2 separate regions of the Homo sapiens genome follow, and region 2 is reported to be linked to region 1. The links are microRNA targets in miRTarBase. Many come from high-throughput screens and were not tested one by one. Region 1 holds a microRNA gene; the other region holds the end of a gene's coding sequence.
What was found. Region 1 holds the annotated microRNA hsa-miR-1827 (UGAGGCAGUAGAUUGAAU, at 1,412-1,429, shown strand). A microRNA usually pairs through its seed, bases 2 to 8, with sites in the 3' UTR of a target mRNA and lowers its output. Matches are read on the target gene's strand: a 7mer-m8 pairs with bases 2 to 8, a 7mer-A1 pairs with bases 2 to 7 and ends in A, and an 8mer does both.

Region 1 (5,254 bases):
AGTGGTGACCCACTGTGGGCCAGGATATCAAATTAAGAAGATAAGAAGTCAATTTTGAGGGGACAAGCATTTTTTTTAGTATTAAAAGAGAAAATAGTACTTAGCTTTACTATATGTAGCAGTGACATTTTTCTTTCAGTTTTATGTACATACTGACAGTATACATTTACATACAAAGGTGTATTATCTGCTGTCGGTTCCCAGTCAAAAAAGTGAACAACACTGTGTCCGAAGGTAACATCCTTCCCAGTGTCCAGAATTGGTTCCTTCTGGTGGGTTCTTAGTCTCGCCAACTTCAAGAATGAAGCTGCAGACCTTTGCGGTGAGTGTTGCAGCTCTTAAAGGTGGCACGGACCCAAAGAGTGAGCAGCAGTAAGATTTATGATGAAGAGCGAAAGAACAAAGGTTCCACAGCATGGAAGGGGACCCGAGCAGGTTGCCGCTGCTGGGTGGGGTGGCCAGCTTTTATTCCCTCATTTGTCCCTGCCCACATCCTGCTCATTGGTCCATTTTACAGAGCGCTGATTGGTCCATTTTACAGAGTGCTGATTGATCCATTTTACAGAGTACTGATTGGTGTGTTTACAATCCTTTAGCTGGACACAGAGCACTGATTGGTGCGTTTTTACAGAGTGCTGATTGGTGCATTTACAATCCTTTAGCTAGACACAGCGCTGACTGGTGTGTTTACAATCCTCTAGCTAGACAGAAAAGTTCTCCAAGTCCCCACTCGACCCAGGAAGTCCAGCTGGCTTCACCTCCCACCAGGAGGCCAAACAAAAAGGACAGTGCTGAGAGGAACCATCGTCCTGCTAGGGAAGGGAGTGTGGCACAAAGGCAGGTGGGTGTGGGCAGACCCCCCCTGCCACGGGTGTGCAGGGCAGAGGATGATGAGCCCCAAGCAGCAGGAGCAGGAGCAGTAGAGCAACTCTGCCCCTGAAAGGGTCTGGAGCCTTCCCTCATCACTCTTCCTCAAGTCGATGCTGGACACCCACTATGTACCAGGCCGTGTGAGGCACTGGGGTAAACCAGAGACAAGACAGACAGGGTCCCTGCCCCATGGAGCTCCCAGCCTTGCAAGGGAGCTAGACCACAGATGAGTACACAAAGAAATACAGTAACTACAGGCAGTGGTAAGGGCTGTGAAGGAGAAGCACGGCAGTGAGGAATGGGAGGAACAGGGAAGGCTTCTCTGAAGAACGAACAGAAGTAACCAGAGAAGAGACAGCCCGCCCTGCAAAGGGACAGCCTGAGGCAGGGCCTGTCGGGAAGACAATACATCTGAAGAACTGCAAGAAGTCAAGTGGGCCTGCAACAGAGGAAATGACAGGAGTCAGACCCCATGGGACCCTGAAGGCCATGTTCAGCAGCACAGCCTTCAGCCTAAAGCAATGAGAAGCCTCTGAAAGGCTGAGGCAGTAGATTGAATTGATTCAGGTCCCTTAGAATTGGGTCCCTGCAACAGGTGGACCCAGGACCGGCAGAGAATGCAGATAGGCGCCCCTCCTCAGCCCCCAACTCTAAATATAACAGAAGACATGGCTCAGTTGCTCCCTTGGTGGCCCTGGACAAGACAGGCTGAAGTTCTCTGAGCCTCCGCTTCCCATGCTGAGTCATGGTGAAAGGTCTCTGAGTCTACAGGCCAAAGCCACTGCTCCTCTCATGACTGCAGTGATTTCCATGGACAGTGTTATGCAACGGCGGCCCTTCTGATACGTGGGGCCCTGGGAGCGTGTGAACTGATCGAGACCAAGAGGACTGATGGGACACAACTGCTAAGCACAACCTCATGCTCCTGGGAGCTATCAAAGAAGACCAGGCACCAATGCAGCAACACACACACACAGCCCAGCCAACTTCCCGCAACTGCTGAAACTCCACGGGCCCAAAAGCAAGTCGCCTTCCTTCCTGCTTCCTTCTCTAGAAGGTCTGGCTTTAAAAATGTCACTGTGAGGCAGCAGCATGGTGACTACATGCCTTGTCTTTCTTGGCAGACAGAGCCATGCCTTCCAACGAGGAAAATTACAAATACCACGTTATGGCTCCTGGACAGGAACAACTTCTCCCAATTCACCAAACATCTGTGTGCCTGCTTTGAGCTGGTTTGCGCCCTCTGCTGCAAACAGGGGCTGAAGAGACGAGTCACTGTCACGACTTTAGAGTCCTAGACACTAAAACCATAATAGATTCTTGGGAACCCCCGCCGTGCTCACAGATAACTCTTTCTACCAGGCCTGAGTGGGTCAAGAATGAAGCAAAAACTAAGAGTCAGAGCAGGGCCAACTGCAGGGCCCGCAGAAGACCTGTGGGAGGGAGGCCTGGAAGGAAGAGCACACCTTCCCGGCCAGCTCAGCCCTCACAACTGCCCTTGAGAAAGGCACCCTGTCCACTCCACCCAAGGGAGTGGAGACACACTTCACCTACTGGCTCAAAAGAGTCAGAGGGGCAACAGTGGCAGCAATGCCAGCAGGCCTGGGGTGTGTAGCCACCATTTACAGAGCACTTACAATCAGTCAGGCAGTGTGCTAGGCATTTCTTATTTGTAACCTTAACAACACTCTCACTGATCCAGAGAGGGAGAGGTTTACACACACACACACACACACACACACACACACACACACACACACTCCAAGAGGATATGAGGGCTTAAAGCTTGGGTTAGGCAATAAGCATCTGGCATCCTCTAAGCATGAAAGGCACAGTAGTGAACTATACTGACAAAATCTCCTCCTAGGAGGTGATGCTCTAGTAGGACACAACAGCAGATGCTCAAAGACTAGATCAGGGAGCAAAACCATCCTGAATCTCTAGCCGACTGAGGGCCCCCTGTGCTGGCTGGTGAGCTACTGCCTACTGGACAATCATGAAAGCCACAGTCTCCCTAGGGATCCTCTCAGCTCCTTGCCCCTCAGATGGTCTCACACAACCGAGTGCTCAGGATGTTTACTGAACTGAGCACTTTAGGCAGAGTATTTCACAGAACACTAGTTAGAAGCCACTAATTAGTCACGACTACCTAGTTTACCATTTCCACAATACATTCATTCTGTGAAAGTAAACGAAACCCAGCTGAGGGCTAGCCTGATACGATATAGGTAAACACCCAATCAAATATCATTAAGACCCCACTACATAAATACCAGAACTGAAAATTGCTAATGAAAATGCCCTTCCCTCTCCCAGTCTGAGATACAATGGCAGGGTCCTTTTCTTTCTTTAGAGGAAGGGGTTGTTACTGTCTATATTTTGTTCTGACTGGAGGTGGGAAGTCTGCACCCCAGTGCCTCAAAGGTAAAAGCGTCTGACCAAGGACACCTGTCTACCCTCATCAGATGCCTCAGTGAGGTGGGAGCTGGTACACCTCCACCCCGAATGCATCTGACCCCTCCTTTCATTTCTCAAGAAATTGTTATCTCCATGGTGGAAGGAAACTGGCAATGTGCATACAAGCAAAGCAAGTGCAGCAGGAGAGAAGTCAATGCTAAGGGCCATTAGGAATCCTTCAGGAAAGGAAGTCCACCGGGGTGGGGCTGGCCCCAGCCACACATACCTGCCAAAGTGAGCTTCATCCATCACAGCACCCCCAACTCAGAAACAATTAAGAAGCAACTGCTCCAAATAGGTTCAGCTTTGCATTTATCTACTTTTAAATGTTTGCCAGTACATAACATATAAATACTTCAACCCTTCATACACAAACAAGATAATCCTCCAACCTAGTTAAATAAAAATACTAGGCATGACTAAACCATCATCAGTGCCACGGTCTGAATGTCTGTGTCCCCACAAAATTCCTATGTTGAGACCTAGTCCCCAAGATAATAGTAGTAAGAGTGAAGCCTTGTGGGAAGTGATTAAGTCATGAGGGCAGACCCCTCTGGAATGAGATCAGGGTCCTTATAGAAGAGGCCAGAGTGGTAAAAGGGATTTCAGGAGAAAAATACACTTAGCTAGGTAGCTAGATACATACATACATATATATGTATACATACATGGATATATACACACATATATATGTATACATAGATGGAGGCCCCAGAGGGAACTTGTCTGTCCCTTCTGCTGTGAGAACACCGCTACAAGGCATCATCTCTAAAACAGAGAGTGAGCCCCCACCAGACACCAAATCTGCTGCTGTCTTCATCTTGGACTTCCCAGCCTCCAGAACTATGAGAAATAAATTTCTGTTGTTCATAAGCTACCTTGTCTATGGTATTTTATCACAGCAGCCCAAATAAACAAAGGCAATCAATTTGGGAGAAGAAGAAGAAAGAAAAGAAACGATTTGTCAAACTCTGCTTAAAACTCTTCACTGACTCCATAGCTCTTAGGACAAAGACCAAAATCCTGCCCTGACCCAAGCCCTGCCTCTTCCAAAGGCTATGTCCCCTTCACCCCTAGCTGCCACCAGGCACTCCTTGAGTCCCACATGCAAACAGCACCCCCACCTAAAGGCCTCTGTTTATGCCACTTCCTCTCCCTAGAACACTTTACTCCCCCTCTCCACGCCCCCCAGTCAACACCAACTCGTCCTTTGTGTCTCAGCTGGAATGTCGCTTCTTCAGGAAAGTCTTTCCTAGCCCTCCCCAACCCCTAAACCACATCAAGATCCTGAACTATACATGTACTGCCTCTCTTTCCTTTCAAACTTCCTAGCACTGGTTGGTGTTTGTTATATTTTATTAATATCTGTTCCCTGGATACTGACAGCTCCACAAGGACAGGGACTATCTTGTCCAGTCATATCCCTAGTGCCTAATCACACACAGTGAGTGAGTGAGTGGGAAGCTCCTGAGGCCTTCCTAGAACGCAAGTCAGTGAACTACAGCCTGGAGTCATTTCCAGCCTCTGCCTATTTCTGTACAATCTACAAGCCAAGAATGGTTTTAACATTTTTATTTTGCTATTTTGTTTTTTTGAAACAAAAAACAGCCTGTCACCCAGGCTGGAGTACAGTGGTGAGAACACAGCTCACTGCAATCTCTACCTCTTGGGCTCAAGCAATCCTGCCTCAGCCTCCCAAGTAGCTGGGACTACAGACATTTGCTACCACATCTGGCCAGTTTTAAAATTTTTATAGAGATGGGGTCTCACTTTGTTGCCCAGGTTGGTCTTGAACTCTTGGGCTCAAGTGATCCTCCCACTTTGGCCTCCCAAAGTGCTGGGAGGAGTACCGGAGTGAGCCACTGTGCCCAGCTAACATTTTTAAATGGCTGAAAACAATTAAAAGAATATTTTGTGAAATGTGAAA
Region 2 (5,000 bases), not on the chromosome of region 1:
TGGAAATGCCACCTGGTAATGAAGAGAACAGATGTGTAGTGCTACACACTTTACCTTTGCTGAGTAGATGCCTAACAGAAGGAAGGGTAGGCATATGCAGCTTTGTTTGTTGATGAGACTAATCTTGGACTTTCAATTTTCAAGGAAATTAAGCCTTTTTCTGAGAAGGGAAGAATTATTCCAGTGTACTCACCCTCAGGAACGCTGGCAGAGTAGGGTAGATGAACTGATGGTGGGATCAGAAAAGAAGTGAAGCTCAGAGGAGGCTGATGGATTGGGAGAAAGCCGTCTAGAACCTGGAAGTCTAGATGAGGTTAAAGAATAAATATGGCCGGATGCAGTGGCTCCCGCCTGTAATCCCAGTACTTTAAGAGGCCAACGGTGGGCAGATTGCTTGAGCCCAGGAGTTTCAAACCAGCCTGGGCAACATGGCGAGACGGTGCCTCTACAACACAAGAAAAACAATTAGCCAGGCATGGTGATGTGTACCTGTGGTCCTACTTGAGAGGCTGAGGTGGGAGGATTGCTTGAGGCCAGCAGGTTGACTGCTGCAGTGAGTCATGTTTGTGCCACTGCACTCCTGTCTGGGTGACCAAGCAAGACCCCATCTCAAACAAAAATAAAAGAATAAATGTGTCATAGGAGCAGAGAGCAGGATAGAGGCAGTAGCAGTCAAGAGCTCACACTTTCTGAAATGGGAGAGCACCTGGAGGCACAGGGAGTGAGGATGTGACCAAGGGGCTAGGAGACTGGGGTGGGGTCTCCAGAGCTGCAGGAACCATCAGTAGCTGGCACCCAGAGCAGCAGTGGGGTCACCCATGGACTCTGACGTCACCCAGGAAAGCAGCAGGAGTGGAGAAGAGGGGAAGTAGAAAGGGCCTGAACTCCACAGGAGGAGGAGGGATATGGTGACCTCAGTCGGAAGGGGAGGTGACTTGAGCCCCAGATGAGCTAGATACTTTGAGAAGCATGGAGGCCTCCTGACCTGGGAGTAGCACTGGGGACCAAGGAGAATGCAGCCCCAGCATGACCGGTGTTTTTGCCAGGTCTTGCTTCTGCCCTTTCCATTGCCATCCCTGTTTCTCAAGGGGTGAGTTCAGATCTGCTATTCCCGTTTTCCATGGGAACCAGTGACTGACAGGACCTGTTGCTGACGTGCTGCGGAGACATACATGGTGCTCACAAAGGGGCACCCTTCTTTTTTTTTCTCTTTTTTTTTTTTTTTTTTTTTTGAGACAGGGCCTCACTCCAATTTGCCCAGGCTGGAGTACAGTAGCACAATTTTGGCTTACTGCAGCCTCGACCTCCTGGGCTCAGGTGATTTTCCCACCTCAGCCTTCCAAGTAGCTGGGACCACAGGTGTATGCCACCACACCTGGCTACTTTTTGTGTGTGTGTATTGTAGAGACGGGGGTTTCACCATGTTGCCTAGACTGGTCTTGAACTCCTGAGCTCAGGTGATCCACCTGCCTTGGCTTCCCGAAGAGCTGGGATTACAGGCATGAGCCACCATGCCCGGCCCAGAGGGCACCCTTCTAACAACCCCACTGCCCGTCTGCTTGCTGCCTGCACATGGAGGCCCTTCATAATGCTGTCCAGGGTGCCTCGAGCATGAGGTGCCTCTGACTGTGGTTGAAGCAGGCCTCTGGGAGTCCAGAGCTGGTCTTGAGAAACAACTTCAGGGTCCAGCCTGCAGTTTGGGATCCGGCATCTCCCCCTCCCACCCCAAGGCTACTTCCCTGGGAGCTCAGGGGCAGCACTCAGGTGCTCACGGCTCTGCACAGCTTTTCACAGGCTCCTTTCTCTGCAGAATCTCCCTGTCCCTGCAGTCACTCCCCTCCCCTATCCCCCACCCTCCCCCAAGGCCCACTTCTTAGGAGCTGTCCCCACTCAGGGCTTGACTGTGCATTCAAGTCAGGGCAGGCTCAGGGCCCCCCACTGAGGAAACCACCTCCGCCAACCAGCCTCCCCTCAGCTCCCTCATCCACTCTCTGGCCTCCACGAGGTCCCCACTTCTCCCATTTTCTCCCATTGTCCTCAGTGTCCCCACTCCCCACCCCCAGCCTCTGTTGCTCTCTGTCCGGGAGCCCCTGTGCTTCTCCCAGAACTTGTCCACTGGGCAGGACTGACAGGCAGGACGGCTCTTCCTCCCCCGAGCCAGGGACTTAGTAGGCAGGGGGCATCCAGGCCTTCCTGGCCAGCATCTGGGAATTCACCCAGATGGTTTATGCAAGTCCTACTCCCCCAGGGCTGGCCAAGGCCCATCAGAGTGGATCCCATGAGTCAAATGAGTGCAAGCGTGAGCTTGGATAGAACATCCACTGGACAAAAGGCCAGATACAAAATTGTCTATGTGTATTGTGTATATAAAATAAAACCACCATATGACACATCACTAGGAGGAAACATGCCACTGTTACTGCTTCAGAGTAAAGTTATGGGTGGTTTTAATTTTTTCTTTCCTTTAGATTTAATCCTCTTTTTATAAAAATTGTGGTAAAATACACATAACATAAAATGTACCATCTTAACCATTTCAGTGTATAGTTCAGTATTGTTATGTATATTCATATTGTTGCACAACTGATCTCCAGAACTTTTTCATTTTGCAAAACTGAAACTCTTCACCCATTAAAGAACTCCTCACTTGCCCTTCCCCCATTCCCTGGCAAGAGAGGTTTTACATTTTTAAAATTGTTTTCATTTTTGCTTATTTGCACTTTCCAAATTTTCTATCATGAGCATTTATTATTTTTATAATTGAATTTTTAAAACTAAACATCTGCAACCCTGTACCACGTCCTCCACTTTCTCGGCAGGGAGCATGAGCTATGGGCATGAGCTAGGAAGCTGTCTGCAGGGAGAACCCAGACAGACCGACCGAAGGTCATCCTCCAGCTCCCAGCCTTGGAAGCCAGGGCTTCCTCTCAGGAGGACAAGACTCAGGGACTGCAGCAGGACAAGTTTCCTCCATGAACTGAGTCCTGGCTGAGCAATGACTTGGCCTGCAGGGATTCAGAATGGGGCTCAGTTTCAAGGACTACTTGTCCCTGTCCCTCTTCTCACTGCATTGAGTTCGGCAGAACCCTCCACAGGGTCACTCCTTGCCCTTGGTTGGCCATGTCTCTTGCCCTCAGAGACCCTCTGGCCAGCCAAGTCCAATGCTCTGCTCACTGGACTCCCGAGCCAGCCTGCACGTATGTGAGGACGGAGGTGGGCTGTGGTGGTGGGGTCTGCTTGCATGCTGGCTTTGCCCCACTTGTGCTGGGAGAGGCTGGGGAGGGCATGGGGAGGTCAGGGAGGAAGTGGGGCTTGGGGTTGATAAAGATGCAGATAATAACTTCCGCCCTTTCAGTCTGAGGGTATTGTTGGTTTTATTATAAGCAGTGGCTTACACACACACAGAAAGAAAACCATAGCTAAAGTGCCAAAGCATGACACTGTGGAAAGCCAGCGCCTCTTTCATTTTTCAGGCAAGGAACCAAGGCCTAGAAAGGTGGACTGATTGGCCGGGTGTGGTGGCTCATGCCTGTAATCCGAGGACTTTGGGAGGCCGAGGTCGGCGGATCACCTGAGGTCAAGAGTTTGAGACCAGCCTGGCCAACATGGTGAAACCCCGTCTCTACTAAAAATTAAAAAAAATTAGCTGGGCATGCTGGGGCTCACCTGTAGTCCCAGCTACTCGGGAGGCTGAGGCAGGAGAATCGCTTGAACCCCGGAGGCGGAGGTTGCAGTGAGCCAAAATCGCGCCACTGCACTCTAGCCTGGGCGACAGAGTGAGACTCTGTCTCAGAAAAAAAGAAAGGTAGACTGATATGCTTGATGGTGCATGACAAGGTGGTGACAGCAGGGCTGAGATTGGAACCAGGTCCCCTGGATCCCTGGGCCCCTGCCAGAACCTGAACAGGAACTGGGAAGGACAGTGAGGACCCAGTGGGACCGTTTCAGAAACTGGCAGTGGTGGCAGGGAGTCCCCAGAGGGAGGACTGCTGAGCCCCAGCTAACTGTGATATTTCTGCAGGGTAAGGATTTGAACTGGGGGAGTGGCAGTGGACAGATAAGAAGCACAAGGTGTGGCGTCTGGTCAGTGTGAGTCCTCAGCAGTCAGGGATCCCTCCTCCTGCTGTTTCCCTCTGAGGGAAACTGAGGTGCTGGTCAGAATTTCTAGGCTGAACTAGGGACAGTACGTGAAGGCATCCCTGCAGAGGAAGGCAGATGTGTCTCCCCAGCTCCAGGTGACCCTCTGGCCCCTCCAGGTGAAGCCACTTTAAGGCTCCACTCAGGATGGATCGGTCTCTTGCTGCGCCTCTGGGCCATCGTTCCCAGCCAGGGGGTGGACCCAGCTGCCCAGGGAGCCCACATCACACAGGGTGCTGCCTGTGGTCATCCTGCTGAGGCTGTGGGAGCTGTGGCGGGGTCTGAGGCGATGGCAGCAGGCCCCGAGGCACAGGGCCTCCTGGAAGGTCTCTCGGAAGCGGCTGGACATGAGGCTATAGAGCACGGGGTTGGCCGCCGAGCCCAGGTAGAAGAAGATGCCGGAGATGACGTGCACGTGCTGGAAGGCCAGGTGCAGGCCATCTGTCCACTGTGACACGACGCTCCACATGACGCGGTCGGCGTGGAACGGGGCCCAGCAGATGCCAAACACCACGACCAGGACAACTGCAGGGACAGAGAAGGGAGGCCGAGTGCCCGCCCGAGGCCCCTCAGCTGCCTTCCCGGGCTTCAGTTTGGGTCACCCATTTTCACATCCTCTCCTATCCCACAGGCCACCCTCACCTATCACCCAGGTGGAAGTTTCTGGAAATTTGCCTGTTCTGGCCATGCCTCTCTCAGAGAGGCTGCCCTCACCATGGTCACTGACTGTGGGCAATGGGGCATATCCCTGCCTCTGACCACAGCCAACTGGACCAGGTGTGGACACCTAAGCCCAGCCGGCCCAATCAGATTCTCTCACCCTGGAATATGAAATTGGGTGACACTTAGCTGTGGCTGTTGAG

Region 2: miRTarBase lists NMUR1 as a target of hsa-miR-1827. Seed matches in the 3' UTR shown: 8mer at 3,692-3,699.

Annotation. Positions count from the first base shown.
Region 1 is chr12:100,188,521-100,193,774 of GRCh38, forward strand. MIR1827 (microRNA 1827) reads left to right here and starts at 1,364; the gene lies at 1,364-1,429.
Region 2 is chr2:231,520,764-231,525,763 of GRCh38, forward strand. It overlaps NMUR1 (neuromedin U receptor 1), which reads right to left. Exons shown (of 3, transcript NM_006056.5): 3 at 2,424-4,662. The coding sequence ends at 4,280. Among named protein-coding and RNA genes, the nearest start is that of NMUR1, 7.2 kb to the right of the region's middle.